Linked DNA regions of Homo sapiens. The protein of the gene in region 1 binds, or shares a complex with, the protein of each later gene. Each region holds a gene or a part of one and is shown on either strand. Other genes may lie near its edges.

Evidence for each region.
Region 2: SNRPD1 (region 1) and USP39 share a complex: the UniProt entries of both Homo sapiens proteins name them as parts of the U4/U6-U5 tri-snRNP complex.
Region 3: SNRPD1 (region 1) and BUD13 share a complex: the UniProt entries of both Homo sapiens proteins name them as parts of the minor spliceosome.
Region 4: SNRPD1 (region 1) and LSM8 share a complex: the UniProt entries of both Homo sapiens proteins name them as parts of the U4/U6-U5 tri-snRNP complex.

Annotation. Positions count from the first base shown.
Region 1 is NC_000018.10:21,625,814-21,629,313, reverse strand, and holds part of SNRPD1 (small nuclear ribonucleoprotein Sm D1), read right to left. Parts: intron 253-3,500; coding exon 176-252; 3' UTR 1-175. UniProt on the Homo sapiens protein: Plays a role in pre-mRNA splicing as a core component of the spliceosomal U1, U2, U4 and U5 small nuclear ribonucleoproteins (snRNPs), the building blocks of the spliceosome.
Region 2 is NC_000002.12:85,640,186-85,643,685, reverse strand, and holds part of USP39 (ubiquitin carboxyl-terminal hydrolase 39), read right to left. Parts: intron 2,711-3,500; coding exon 2,568-2,710; intron 1-2,567.
Region 3 is NC_000011.10:116,766,488-116,769,987, reverse strand, and holds part of BUD13 (BUD13 homolog), read left to right. Parts: intron 1-3,500. UniProt on the Homo sapiens protein: Involved in pre-mRNA splicing as component of the activated spliceosome. As a component of the minor spliceosome, involved in the splicing of U12-type introns in pre-mRNAs.
Region 4 is NC_000007.14:118,201,164-118,204,535, reverse strand, and holds the end of LSM8 (LSM8 homolog, U6 small nuclear RNA associated), read right to left. Parts: 3' UTR 501-3,372; downstream 1-500. UniProt on the Homo sapiens protein: Plays a role in pre-mRNA splicing as component of the U4/U6-U5 tri-snRNP complex that is involved in spliceosome assembly, and as component of the precatalytic spliceosome (spliceosome B complex).

The DNA of each region.
Region 1 (3,500 bases):
AATGCTTAGCTCTCACTGTGGTAATTTCGTGAATGTGGAGGAAACTACTAAAACTTTGATATACTAAATAGACAGCTCTGTCCCACATTTATGTTTATTAAAAACTGACATAAACAAACACAACCTGTACAAAAAATATCCCAAATCTCATATGACTTTGAAATCTTGAGAGACATTATCGCCTAGGACCCCCTCTTCCTCTGCCACGGCCACGTCCTCTTCCTCTTCCTCTTCCTCTGCCTCTTCCTGCAACTGAAGGAAAAGAAAAACAAACCAAGTTCAATTCTCTCCTGCACCAATGTTACCTAGACACCACAAACAACATTTACACACACACCTTTCCCTGTTTATAGCTCTTTATTAGTAGCTACAGTAAATAAAGTTTAACTAGCTTCTGTTAAATGTGTTAGACTTCAGATTCCCTCCACCCCCCAACACATTATCATGCAGAACCAATAACTAAAGGCCTAGGGAGATTATTATTTGTTTCATTTCAATTTATTTACTAAGAAATGTGTCAAATTTAAAAATACTTTTTCTTTATATCATGTCTCAAATTCACCATAAAATGATTTGAACCTCACAAAAAAAGGGAAGATATATATCACAGAATAAAACATGATCACCTTGATGCCAGAGTTTTGGTAACTGAATAAAATCCAAGCAAGTTAATTCAAAACCAGGAAAGTTTAAATGTATTACATCAAATCACAATCTTATTAACTCTTCAGAAAATTAAAACTCATTTGACCTACACATAATCTAGTGCTTTAATCCAAATAGTAATATCCCTACTGGGTCATCCTAACTCTAGTTGAGTATCATGGTGATAGGGAATTCATGACCCAAATAAACTTATTTCATCTTCAGACAGCTAAGAATATTAGAAAATCTTGACATAGAAGTCAGTCACATTCTAAATGTTTTTGTTTTTGTTTTTTAAATACAGGGTCTCACTCTGTAGTCCCATCTGGAGTGTAATTACACCTCACTGCAGCCTTGAACTCCTGGGCTCAAGTGATCCTCCCATCTAAGCCTCCTGAGTAGCTGGGACTACAGGTACAAACCATCATGTCTGGCTAATTTTTAAAATTTTTGTAGAGATGAGGTCTCCCTTTGTTGCCCAAGCTGCTCTCAAACTCTTGGGCCAAAGCAATCCTCCAGCCTCAGCCTCCCAAAGTGGTGGGATTACAGGTGTGAGCCACCGCACCTGGCCACATTAGAAATTTGTACACACTGATTCTAGTCTTACCATTCTAAGCAATAAATAGTAAGTTTAAGATGCTAATTAAGGGACATTTCACAAAATAACTGGCCCGTACTCTTACAAAGTATCAAGGTCACAAAAGGAAAACTGAGGAGAACCAGCTGATACGCATTAAAGGAAACTAAGGAAACGTACAAGTAAATGCAACCTGTTGTACTGGATTGGATCTTGGACCAGGAAAAGGACATTAAAGGGACAATCAGAGAAATGTGAGAAAGGTCTCTAGATAATACAGTAGTGACACATCAATGTAAAATTTCTAATTTTTTGTAGTTATATGACATTTTAACATTTAGACAATCTTGGTGAAAAGTGTATGGGAATTCCTTGTACTATTTTTGCAACTTTTTGTGTCTAAAATTATTTCAAAATGAAGTGTTTAAAAAAATAAAGAAAATGGGAAAAACAGAGTTGGAGGGGTGTTGTAAAACAACAACAACAACAACAACAAAAGGGCTGGGCACCTGTAATCCCAGCTACTTGGGAGGTTGAGGCAGGAGAACTGCTTGAACCTGGGAGGCAGAGGTTGTAATGAGTGGAGATCGCGCCATGGCACTCCAGCCTGGGCAACAGAGCATGACTCTGTCTCAAAAAAAAAAAAAAAAAAAAAAACCCAAGAAAAGAAAATGGACCAGGTATGATGGTGGCTCACACCTATAATCCCAGCACTTTGGGAGGCCACAGCAGGAGGATTGTTTGAGACCAAGAGTTCAAGACTATCCTGGACAACATAGGGAGACCCTGTCTTTACAAAAAAATAAAAAATAAAAAATTAGCCAGGTTTGGTGGTGCATATCTGTAAAAAAGAAAGATAAATTAAGAAAACAACTGCTCACTGCAATCTCCGCCTCTCGGGTTCAAGCGATTCTCCTGCCTCAGCCTCCCGAGTAGCTGGGACTGCAGGCGCCCACCACCACGCCCAGCTACTTTTTTGTATTTTTAGTAGAGATGGGGTTTTACTCTGTTGGCCAGGCTGGTGATCCACCTGCCTCGGCCTTCCAAAGTGCTGGGGTTACAGGCGTGAGCCACCGCGCCCAGCTGCTGCTTCTTTTTTTTTTTTTTAAAGAAAGAAAATAAATGTTTATTCAAAAAAAAAAAAAATCCAAACATTTGGGAGGCCAACGCAGAAGACAGCCTGAAGCCAGGGGTTTGAGGCTGCAGTGAGCTATGATCATGCCACTTCACTGCAGCCTGAGCAACACAGTGAGATCTTGTCTCTTACCAAACAAACAACAAACAAAACAATTTTTTTTTTTTTTTTGAGACCAAGTCTCTCTCTGTTGTCCAGGCTGGAGTGCAGTAGTGCGATCTCGGGTCACTACAACCTCTGCCTCCCAGGTTCGAGCAATTCCCTGCCTTAGCCTCCCGAGTAGCTGGGATTATAGGTGACCGCCACCACACCTGGCTAATTTTTGTATTTTCAGTAGAAATGGGGTTTCACCATTGGCCAGGCTGGTGTTGAACTCCTGACCTTGTGATCCAGCTGCCTCAGCCTCTGAAAGTGCTGGGATTACAGGCGTGAGCCACCACACCTGGCCCAAACCAATAATTTTTAAATAACTCCCTAACACTAGACTATGACAAACTTGAAACGAAGACTCATTTTCATTATTTAATTTGTTGTAGTTTCCTTTTTTTTTTTTTTTTTTTTTGGCGACAGGGTTTTACTCTGTCACCCAGGCTGGAGTGCAGTGGCGTAATCTCGGCTCACCGGAGCCTCCATTTTCTGGGTTCAAGAAATTCTCCTGCCTCAGCCACCCGAGTAGCTGGGATTACAGGCATCTGCCACCATGCCTGGTTAATTTTTGTATTTTTAGTAGAGACAAAGTTCATGCCATGTTGCCCGGGCTGGTCTCGAACTTCCGAGTTCAGGCGATCTGCCCGCCTCTGCCTCCCAAAGTACTGGGATTACAGGCATGAGCCACCGCACCTGGCCAATTTCAGTTATTTTAAACCGTACTATTTTAAATGTGTACACACAAAAACTGTAAGTCTAGAACACGTTAAAATGGGCCAAATTGACCACACTTACCTTCAATTTCTTCTGAAATAGTATTTATGATAGAAAAGGAACAAAAATGATAACTACCCAGAGGAACAAAGAAAAGCAGAGAAAACACAGTAGATAAAAGATTTTGGGCCAGGCACCGTGGCTCACGCCTGTAATCCCAGCACTTAGGGAGGCCCAGGCAGGCGGATCATGAGGTCAGGAGATCGAGACCGCTTGGCTAAC
Region 2 (3,500 bases), on another chromosome or scaffold:
ACAGAGCGAGACTCCATCTCCAAAAAAAAAAAAAAAAGGAGATATGAGTCCTGAGTCCATGTGAGCTCTAGTCAGCCAACCTGCCTTCCTGCTACTAAAGGCTGACTTCTCATTTTATTTTCTCTTCAGCCTGAACAAAAGCTGACTAGACTTGTCTGAATGAGTATCAGTGAAGAAGTCTTTTTTTTTTTTGAGACAGAGTCTCGCTCTGTCGCCCAGACTGGAGTGCAATGGCGCTAGCTATCTCAATTCACTGCAAGCTCTGCTTCCTGGGTTCACGCCATTCTCCTGTCTCAGCCTCCCGAGTAGCTGGGACTACAGGCGCCCACCACCATGCCTGGCTAATTTTTTGAATTTTTAGTAGAGACGGGGTTTCACCGTGTTAGCCAGGATGGTCTCGATCTCCTGACCTCGTGATCCGCCCGCCTTGGCCTCCCAAAGGGCTGGGATTACAGGTGTGAGCCACCGTGCCTGGTTTGGAGAAGTCTTTATACTCAAGATTTCATGACTGAACCAAAACTGTCCATGCGGCAAAAGAGAAATACTACGTTTAATCATTTTGTGTTAGTAAATAGGAAAAGGAGCAAACTATTCATTTTTTTTTTTTTTTTAGTAGAGACAAGGTCTTGCTATGTTGTCCAGGCAGGTCTCAAACTCCTGAGCTCAAGCAATTCTCCCACCTCGGCCTCCCAAAGTGATGACATTACAGATGTGAGCCACTGCGCCCAGCCTAAAAGAGCAAACTATACTCATCTCCCAACCACAGCAACAGACCAGTTAAGAGAATGGCTAATTACCTGAAAGTGAAACTTTAAACCTGCCCTCAAAAATCTCTATCTCCAAATAAGCAGAGGGTGCCTAATCACCATAAGTCTGATAACTCTCCGACAAAAACAGGATGTGTTATGAATAAAACATAGGAGAAGACAGGTATGAAAAAGATCCTTTTCAAGAAGTATGGACAATGAAATGATCCAGAATTGTATTACTCGAAGTAATTACAGCACATAAAATAATTAAAGTGCAAGTTTCCAGAATTAGTCACAATTTGATGTTCTCTAAAAGACTGCGTAGTTAAGAAACAATCTTTTTCTCAACTTCTCCGAAGTAAGCTTTCTGAAGGACAAACTTTTATATTGGGCCTACTCTAGGCCCATAAAAGAAACCAATGGGGCAAGGAAATTTCTGTGGCAACTGAGCAGGAAGTACCATTGATACACAATCTTCCTCCCTCTGGAGTTGCCCTTGGAATCCAGACTGCCCCTACCTACCAGGAACAGACAGGTGACTGGCAATTCACAAGAGGCTAGTGCTGAAATAAAACTTTGACACACAGACTTTCGAAGAAAGCACCTCTGTCATCCTACTCAAGGAGGCAGAGAACAAACCTCCATGTCCCCCCATTTAATTCTAGTCACAAACAAGATGCTAGTGGAGAAAAGTGTAGAAAAAGAGAAAAAGAAATTCCCCTGTAATTCTCAACTGCAAATGTTCTCTCTCCTCACCCTCCATGATTCTAAGAGTCCTGGCAATACTATAATAAGATGTTACACCTGGACAAACCCCTAGGGCTCAGGCCCATCTACTCCAAGCCTCTCATTTTATCTATGAGAGAACATATCCAGAAAACACGCAAACTATGGGTCTGAGGTCCCACCACTAAGACAGCCTAAAACTCAGGCCTCTTAATTTTAGATACTACTTTCTTAAACACTACATGGAATTTAAAACTGACACTATTTTCTTTCTTTCTTTCTTTTTTTTTTTTTTTTTTTTTTAGCACAGTCACACTCTGTCACCCAGACCCAGGCTGGAGGGCAGTGACACCATCTCAGCTCACTGCAGCCTCAATCTCCAAGGTTCTAGCCATCCTCCTGCCTCAGCCCCTCAAGTACCTAGGACTGCAGGTGTGCACCACCACATCTGGCTAATTTTTTGTATTTTTTTGTAGAGATGGGGTTTTGCCATGTTGCCTAGGCTGGTCTTGAACTCCTGAGCTCAAGCGATCCAGCTGCCTTGGCCTCCCAAAGTGCTGGGATTACAGGCGTGAGCCACCACGCCCAGCCAAACATCTTCTTAAGTATGAAAAACCTTGTCTCTTGAGAACTGAAAACCAACAGTCTACCCCCAAAAAGGATCTTGCAGAAGTTTTCTGAGTTGGAAGGAAGCAAACTAAAAGCATCTAGTACAACTCTAGTGTGCAAAAAGGTGTGATGGCCAGCAAATAGATGGGCAGACCCTCACTACTCAGGACATCTTCCAAACCAGGCAGAATCCTACCTGTCTTATCCTACTTGCATCATTTCTTCTTCTCTACGCAGGAAGACTATAATTTCCAGCTAGCAACAGGAGAGAAGATAAAATAGGGATTGCATCCCAATAAACATCAATCTTTTGTGGTCCCTGAAATAAGTGTATCCTTCCAATAAAAACTCTTATCTACTGTAGGTAGGCTCTGTTCCTTGTAATCCCCAACTAAGACAGTCCAAAATTAATACTGGTAAAAATACAAGAGAAGAAATCCAGGTTCACTCCCCGTGAGAGAAGTGAGGCAGGATGTTACTTACGTAATAGGGAAATTGACAATAGTTGGATTCTTCTCAACAAAGAAGTTGTTCTTAGTGAATCTCTTGATACAAAAGATTAGATATGGAGGCAACTTGGTAAGCTGGAAGCGCTTCAGAAAGTTCTCCTTGTAAGTCTTATATTCCTAGAGAAAGAAAAGAAAATTCTCAAATTAGTGCTGAAGTTCAGTAGTATTAGAGCAGGGGCATGAGTTTTTCATTTCGATTTTTTAAAATATAATTTTGCCTCACACTTAAGTTCACAAGACTCCTGGTCCGAGAAATTATGTATGAGGCTTAGGATGTGCAGTTTGGCTAAGGCTGATTTAAAAAAAAAAAAAAAAAAAAAGGCCGGGCCTGGTGGCTCACACCTATAATCCTATCACTGTAGGAGGCCGAGGCAGGGGGATCATTTCAGCACAGGAGTTCGAGACCAGCCTTGACAACATGGTGAAACCCCATCTCTACTAAAAAGGAAAAAGAAAAAAAAAGAAAAAAAAAATATATATATATATATGTAAAGAAAGAAAACTAACCAGGCACGGTGGCTCATGCCTGTAATCCCAACACTTTGAGAGGCTGAGGCAGGCAGATCACTTGAGGCCAGGAGATCGAGACCAGCCTGGCCAACAGGGTGAAACCGCATCTCTACTAAAAATACAAACATTAGCTGGGCATGGTGGCATGTACCTGTAGTCCCAGCTACTCGGGAGGCTGAGGCAGAAGAATCGCTTGAACCCGGGAGGTGGAGGTTGCAGTGAGCTGAGATCACACCACTGCACTCCAGCCTAGGCAACAGAGTGAGACTCCATCTCAAAAAAAAAAAAAAAGTATGTCTCCCCACTTTTTGGAGTTTCTCCTCTCCTAAATGACCTTCCTTTCTCTATACTACCCCAGAGGCAGGCAGAAAGCTGAAAACAGGATATATGAGAAGTA
Region 3 (3,500 bases), on another chromosome or scaffold:
CCTCCCGGGTTCAGATGATTCTCCTGCCTCAGCCTCCTGAGTAGCTGGGATTACAGGCACCCGCCATCATGCCTGGCTAATTTTTTTTTTTTAATTTTTGTAGAAATGGGGTTTCACCATGTTGGCCAGGCTGGTCTTGAACTCATGACCTCAGGTGATCCACCCACCTTGGCCTCCCAAAGTGCTGGGATTACAGGCGTGAGCCATTGTGCCAGGCCAAGCTTCTCAAATTTATTTTTCCAGCTTAGGGTAGATTTGTAGGGGGGTTAGTTGAGAACAGAAAAGAGGTGACAGTTTCCAAAGAGCTGTTTAAAATAGTTTTCTTTGCTGATGCCTATACACCAACTTGTCTCTTTATGGAGGGTCCATCAGCCTAGAAATGAGATGGATCACAGAGAGAGGACTTCTCGACATCAGTGTTAGAGTAATGATGAGACTTAGCTGTGGTTCATTTTGTTGGAATCTTTCTTAAAAACAATGCTGAGGTTCAGTTATAGGGAACTTTTTATTTGCTCCTTTTTTCAGTGCTTTAACTAAGCTTTCAAATTGTATATTCTTGCCTAAGTACTGGAGATATGTAGATTAATAGAACATAGCTGTATTTTAGAGATTATACCCTAGAATGAAAAACTGAATTTCAGATAAATTTCAACAGTATGGTAAATGTTGGGGATGTTTCACATACGTACCAAGTACCATTAGAGCCCGGGGAGGTAGCATACTTTGTATTCTGTTGGGAGATATCCTGAAAGATGTAAATACTGAGTTTTGAAGGGTAAGTAAGAGCCAGGTGGACAAAATCATAGGCAAATGACCTCCCAGTGGTTCATGAAACCATTGCTGAGAATTTCTGAGAAACAAAGTGGAAAGGAGAGCTGTAGATAGGCTGAATTCCACTAAAGTTGGTAAAGATGGATTCCAGTGAGTATTTAATATTAATTCCCAGCAAAATTCTTTTTTTTTTTTTTTTTTTGAGACGGAGTCTCACCGTGTTGCCCAGGCTTGAGTGTAGTGGTATGATCTCGGCTCACTGCAAGCTCTGCCTCCTGGGTTCACACCATTCTCCTGCCTCAGCCTCCTGAGTAGCTGGGACTACAGGGGCCCACCAACACGCCCGGCTAATTTTTTGTGTTTTTTTTTGTATTTTTAGTAGAGACAGGGTTTCATCATGTTAGCCAGGTTGGTCTTGATCTCCTGACCTCGTGATCCGCCCACCTCGGCCTCCTGAAGGGCTGGGATTACATGTGTGAGCCACTGCACCTGGCCAATTCCCAGCAAAATTCTAAAATAGATTATTTAAAAGAGGGCTTGCTAGTAATTAGAAGGGAAATAGTGATCTTAGGGAGCCAATTTAGTTTTGGTCAGAAGAAGTAAATATTAACAATGTTTGTTGTTTTTTTTTAATTTTATAAAAGCAATGCATATTTATTACAGAATATTTGGGAATTAAAAAAAGTTTAAAGTTTTTAAAAGAATAAACACTTGCATGTTACCATCCAAAGATAACTGCTAATACTTGGATGCATATCTCTTCAGGTTTTTCTCTTTAGAGATTATACACGCTTGTATTTTATTTTTTTGAACATAATTGGGATCATATTGTACATAGGGTTTTGGAGTCTACTCCTCTGCTAAATAATATGTTGTGGATACTCTGGTAAGACCTTAAAATATTCTTTGAGTGTATGATTTTTAACGGTTATGTAGTAGTTCAATATATATATTTTATCTGTTCTGTTACTGGATACATGGATTGTTTCCACTTATAAAATATCATACATCGTTGTACATAAATCATTTGTAGAAATCAGTTTATTTCTTTATTCCCATAAAATGAAATGAGTGGATCAAAGGGTATGGTTCGCTTTAGTTATATTCCCATGTTGCTTTCCAAAAGGTGCTACCAATTTACACTCCCACTAGAGGTGATGAGAATGCCAGTTTGCCTACGTCGTCAATATTAGAGCACTATTATTATTATTATTATTATTATTATTATTATTATTATTATTTTTGAGACAGGGTCTTGCTCTGTTGCCCAGGCTGAAATACAGTGGTGTGATCATGCCCCATTGTAGCCTCTACCTTCCAGGTGCAAGCAATCCTCCTACCTTAGTCCTGCACGTAGCTGGTACCACAGGTGCGCACCTCCATGCCTGGCTAATTTTGGGTATTTTTTGTAGAGATGAGGTCTCTGTGTTGCCCAGTCTGGTCTTGACCTCCTGGGCTCAAGTGATCCTCCTGCCTAGGCCTCCTAAAGTGTTGGGATTACAGGTGTTAGCCACATGCCCCACCAATATTGAAGGATTATTAACAAAACAAAACCAATAGCAAACCTATGCTGATTTAGCAAGTGAGTAATGGTATCCAGTTTCTTTTTTTTTTTTTTTTTTTTTTGGTGGAGTCTCACTCTGTTGCCCAGGCTGGAGTGCAGTGGCGTGATCTCGGATCACTGCAAGCTCCGCCTCCCGGGTTCACGCCATTCTCCTGCCTCAGCCTCCCGAGTAGCTGGGACTACAGGCACCTGCCACCATGCCTGGCTAATTTTTTGTATTTTTAGTAGAGATGAAGTTTCACTGTGTTAGCCAGGATGATCTTGATCTCCTAACTTCATGATCTGCCTGCCTCGGCCTCCCAAAGTGCTGGGATTACAGACGTGAGCCACCGTGCCTGGCCCAGTTTCTTTGAACACTAGTGAAATGAATCATTTTTTATATGTTCATTAGGCTTATGTTGTGGGTGTATTTTATCATTTGCCTTTTCACTTAGTTCATAATTGTTTTTATTATTTTTTTTTTTTGAGACATATTCTCACACTGTCACCAACGCTGGAGTGCAGTGGCTCAATCTTGGCTCACTGCAGCCTCTGCCTCCCAGGTTCAAGTGAACCTCCTGCCTCAGCCTCCCAAATAGCTGGGATTACAGGCGCCTGCCACCATGCCCAGCTAATTTTTGTGTTTTTGGTAGAGACGGGGTTTCACCGTGTTGCCTAGGCTGGTCATGAACTCCTGGGCTCAAGCAATCCACCCGCCTCAGCCTCCCAAAGTGCTAGGATTACAGGAATGAGCCACCGCACCTGGCCATTTTCTTTTATAATATTGTCTTGCTTTTATGATGGCCCAAAAACCTAAACAAAGGAGGCTTTAGTGCCACTGCTCTCTGCATTGGTTAAAACAGATCTTGATTACTGAATTCATTTTTGTAACTGCAAGATCACCACCACCACCAGTAATAATGGTAAAACGATTATGATGATTACGATAGCAGTGGCAGCACAGGAATAATTAATAGGTGTCATTTATTGGGCATTTATCATGTACCAAGCATGGCTAAGCTTACGTGAATTATCTCATTCAATCCTTATAGCAATCCTTTGAATCCCACTTTTACAAATGAGGAAATTGAGGCTTAGAATAATTTACCAAAGGTTACACAAATGCTAAGTGGCCGAGCTGGGGTTTAGATCTTAATTCATCTTGCCCGAAACCTGTGCTTTTAAC
Region 4 (3,372 bases), on another chromosome or scaffold:
TATATATACACACACATTATATATACACTCTATATATACACTATATACAATGTGTAAACAGTAAATGTTATTGTGTATATATACAAAAATGTTACATATGTGTGTATGTGTGTGTATATGTATATGTATATATGAAATATTTCCTTTATCAAATCAACCACTCATGGACACTTAGGTTGGTTCTATGACTTTGCTACTGTGAATCGTGCAATGATAAGCATACACATGCAGGTGTCTTGTTTATAGTTTCATATGCTTTATTTTTTACTGTAGTAAATGAAAAATATAGCCCCATCAAACCAGAAAATTGAATCTTGCTTGAGGACAATAATTAAAATTCTTCTTAAATCATCAAAGTCCAGGGCTTCCTTCAAATGTAAACTTTTCTTTTTTAAAAAAGTGTGTCCTTGCTATTTTTACATACCATCCGTTATCCCCATAATTACATATCACCCTTAAAATATGGCAAGAATCTCAGAAAAAAACATGGACATTCTTAGTAGCCTCTGTAAAATAATTTATTTTTAGGTGTAATAATTAACAGCAATATATCTATAGTATTAAAATTTACAAATCATTGTTAGAACTGAGCAATTCATAGGTAACCAATAAGGGAGGAAAGGAATTAGAAAGCAACCAAGAAAAACAGCTGTAAGAATATGGAGATATTCTTCATATGCAATAAGGTGGCAAATTTATTCAAAAAAGCATGATAAATATAAAGGATGAGTATATTATAATATACATGTGCACATATTAAATGTTTGAAATCACAAATTATGATTTATTTTCTCAACTAAACTGTTACTATAGAATCATAAAAAGGAAGAGAATCTTGATGATTTTTCCATTAGAGTATACCATGTTAGATCTGGCAGATGACTTTTCACTTTTTATAGTGCTCCAAAAATTGGTACACTTCCCTTTGCCTTTTGGAGACATCACTGACTTTGATATTCAGAGTGGTAAAATCATGATATAAAAATTCTTGCCCATTGAAACTCAATTATCCTATTTACTTGATTTTTAGTCCCTTTCTTCATTTTCCTTATTTAGATATTAATCTCTACTAAACAACCATTACTCTATTTAAAAAATTTAAGTCTACAGCTTGAATAATCACAGCTCTATTAATATTGGATATTAGGACCTCCCCGCAATTTTTACTCCTATATGATATCAGAAATATTAGTATCTTCTTCAAGGGAAATGGGAAAATTATGTGAGTTTTAAAAGGGGTTTATATTTCTTTCTTAAATTAGTATTCAGAGTGCCCCATAATTCTGTTCTCATATAAGCATTTCTCCTGTACAATTTAAAATCTGTTTTTTGAGATTAATTTTTTAAATGAGTCTTCTTAGAACATCTTGCTTTGGAGTTTGGGAGTTAAATCCTTTCATTAAATGTTTAAAAAGAATATATATTCTGATGTCTTGGGATAGAACGTTCTATAAATGGCAGTTAGGTCAAGATGGATGAAAGTATTGTTCATGTCTTCTATATCCCTACTGATTTAAGGCTACAGTTTTTAAAGACTGATAGGGAGGGACTTGACGCCAGAATCCTGAAGGATAAAGTAAGGTAAAAAAGTGTGTAGAAAGACAGTATAGATCAGTGCTTCTCAAACTTTAATGTGCATATGACTCACCTGGGGAATTTATTAAAATTCATATTCTGCATTTTATATCAGAGATAAAAAAGAATTCTGTTTGGGCATAGAAGTTGTTTTCACCTGCCTCTGAGATACTTGCTTCTATACTAGCACAATGGCAGCATTGTTGGTTGTTCACCCCATCCCCATTCTTCTCTTTTTCCTAACAGCAACCCTTTTTTTATTTGGAGTGGCAAAATGTCACTATAAAAGGAAAAAAATCCCTCACCTTCCTAGCCTCCCTTGTAGTTAGGGTAACCATATGACAAAGATCTGGCCAATGGCATTCAAGCAGTATATTTTGCCAGTATAGTCTGCTGGTTATAGTTGGGAAAGCATTTATTTTTCCCATATGATAATCTCACTTTCCTATTTCATCTTTCTTTATTCTAATTAGATGGAAAATATGAGTCACGAGATGACAGGCAAATTATTAGAACAAAAGGATGGCAAAGAGAAAATAGTGGCCTGGGTACTGGGTCACTTCTTTGAGTAGGTGCCCCAGTCTGAACTGCCTTGCTTTTCACTTTTCTGTTCTTTTCTCTCGAGATAAATGAACTCCTCCTGCCTGTTAAAGCCACTGGCAGTCAGAGTTTCCAGTGCTTATAGCCAAATACCATTCTAACTGATGTACTCACCAATAATAATCGTAACTTCCTTTCATATGACACTTCATGGTTTCTTCATCAGCATTATGTGTGACACAAGCAAAAACAAAAACAAAAAAACTGCCAATGTATCTATTTCAAGACATCCCCAGAATTCTGTTATTAAATAGCATTGATGAGGCAGTCAGCCAGAATGTTTAAGCTGTCCTAAATTACTGCCTCCTCTGTGTTTAGGGAGTCTGCTCTTGGTCTTACAAGTCCAAAAGCAGAATATTACAAATTCACATAGAAGTGATCAGGATCTAGAGACTTGATTTATGCCATGCAGATTCACAGGGCATTTGTTTATAAAATTTGTGCTGGAAGATTACTTGTGAACTAGGGCCAAACCCTTAATTATGACTAGGGAAACCCAGAAGATAAAGTTGCATTAAAAGCCTGCTTGATGGAAACAGAAACATACAAAAGATGGCCTTACAGGGAAAAAGTTAAAGTGTTACCACAAATGTATACATGAAATGACCAATAATTTTATTTTATATTTCAAATAACTAGAATTGTACAGAGTTTAATTTTACAGCTTTAGGGCAAGGATAAACTCATTTTTATTTTTGCAGTAAAAGGTATAAATATTGAAAATTATGTAGGTTTAAAACTTTACTATGATATAGACACATTCTCAAATTAATGAATTTTACTGAGCTTTTTATATCAAACTTACTGATATTTAATGCAAAATAATAAATATTGAGATTCTTGGTTGTACATTATAAAATGCATCACAGAGCGATTTATTGATGCAAAGGAACCGTTTTGGCTCATGTAAGTGAAAAGTCTAGGAGTCACATCTTTAGGCATCGCTGGATCCAGGTGCTGAAATGATGTCATCAGGCCCAAAATGTCTCTTTATTGCTTGATTCTGCTTTCCTGAGTTGGTATCAACTAGGAGACTCTCTCTACATGCTCCATGGCAGCTCCAGGCTCACACATACTTAGTATTAAGATTTTCTCCTCTTCTTTAATATAAAGGAAATTCAGCTAGATGATCTTTAGTTCAAAATTCTGTGATATATAAATAACTCGAAATAACTGCTAACAGTTAATGAAACATCT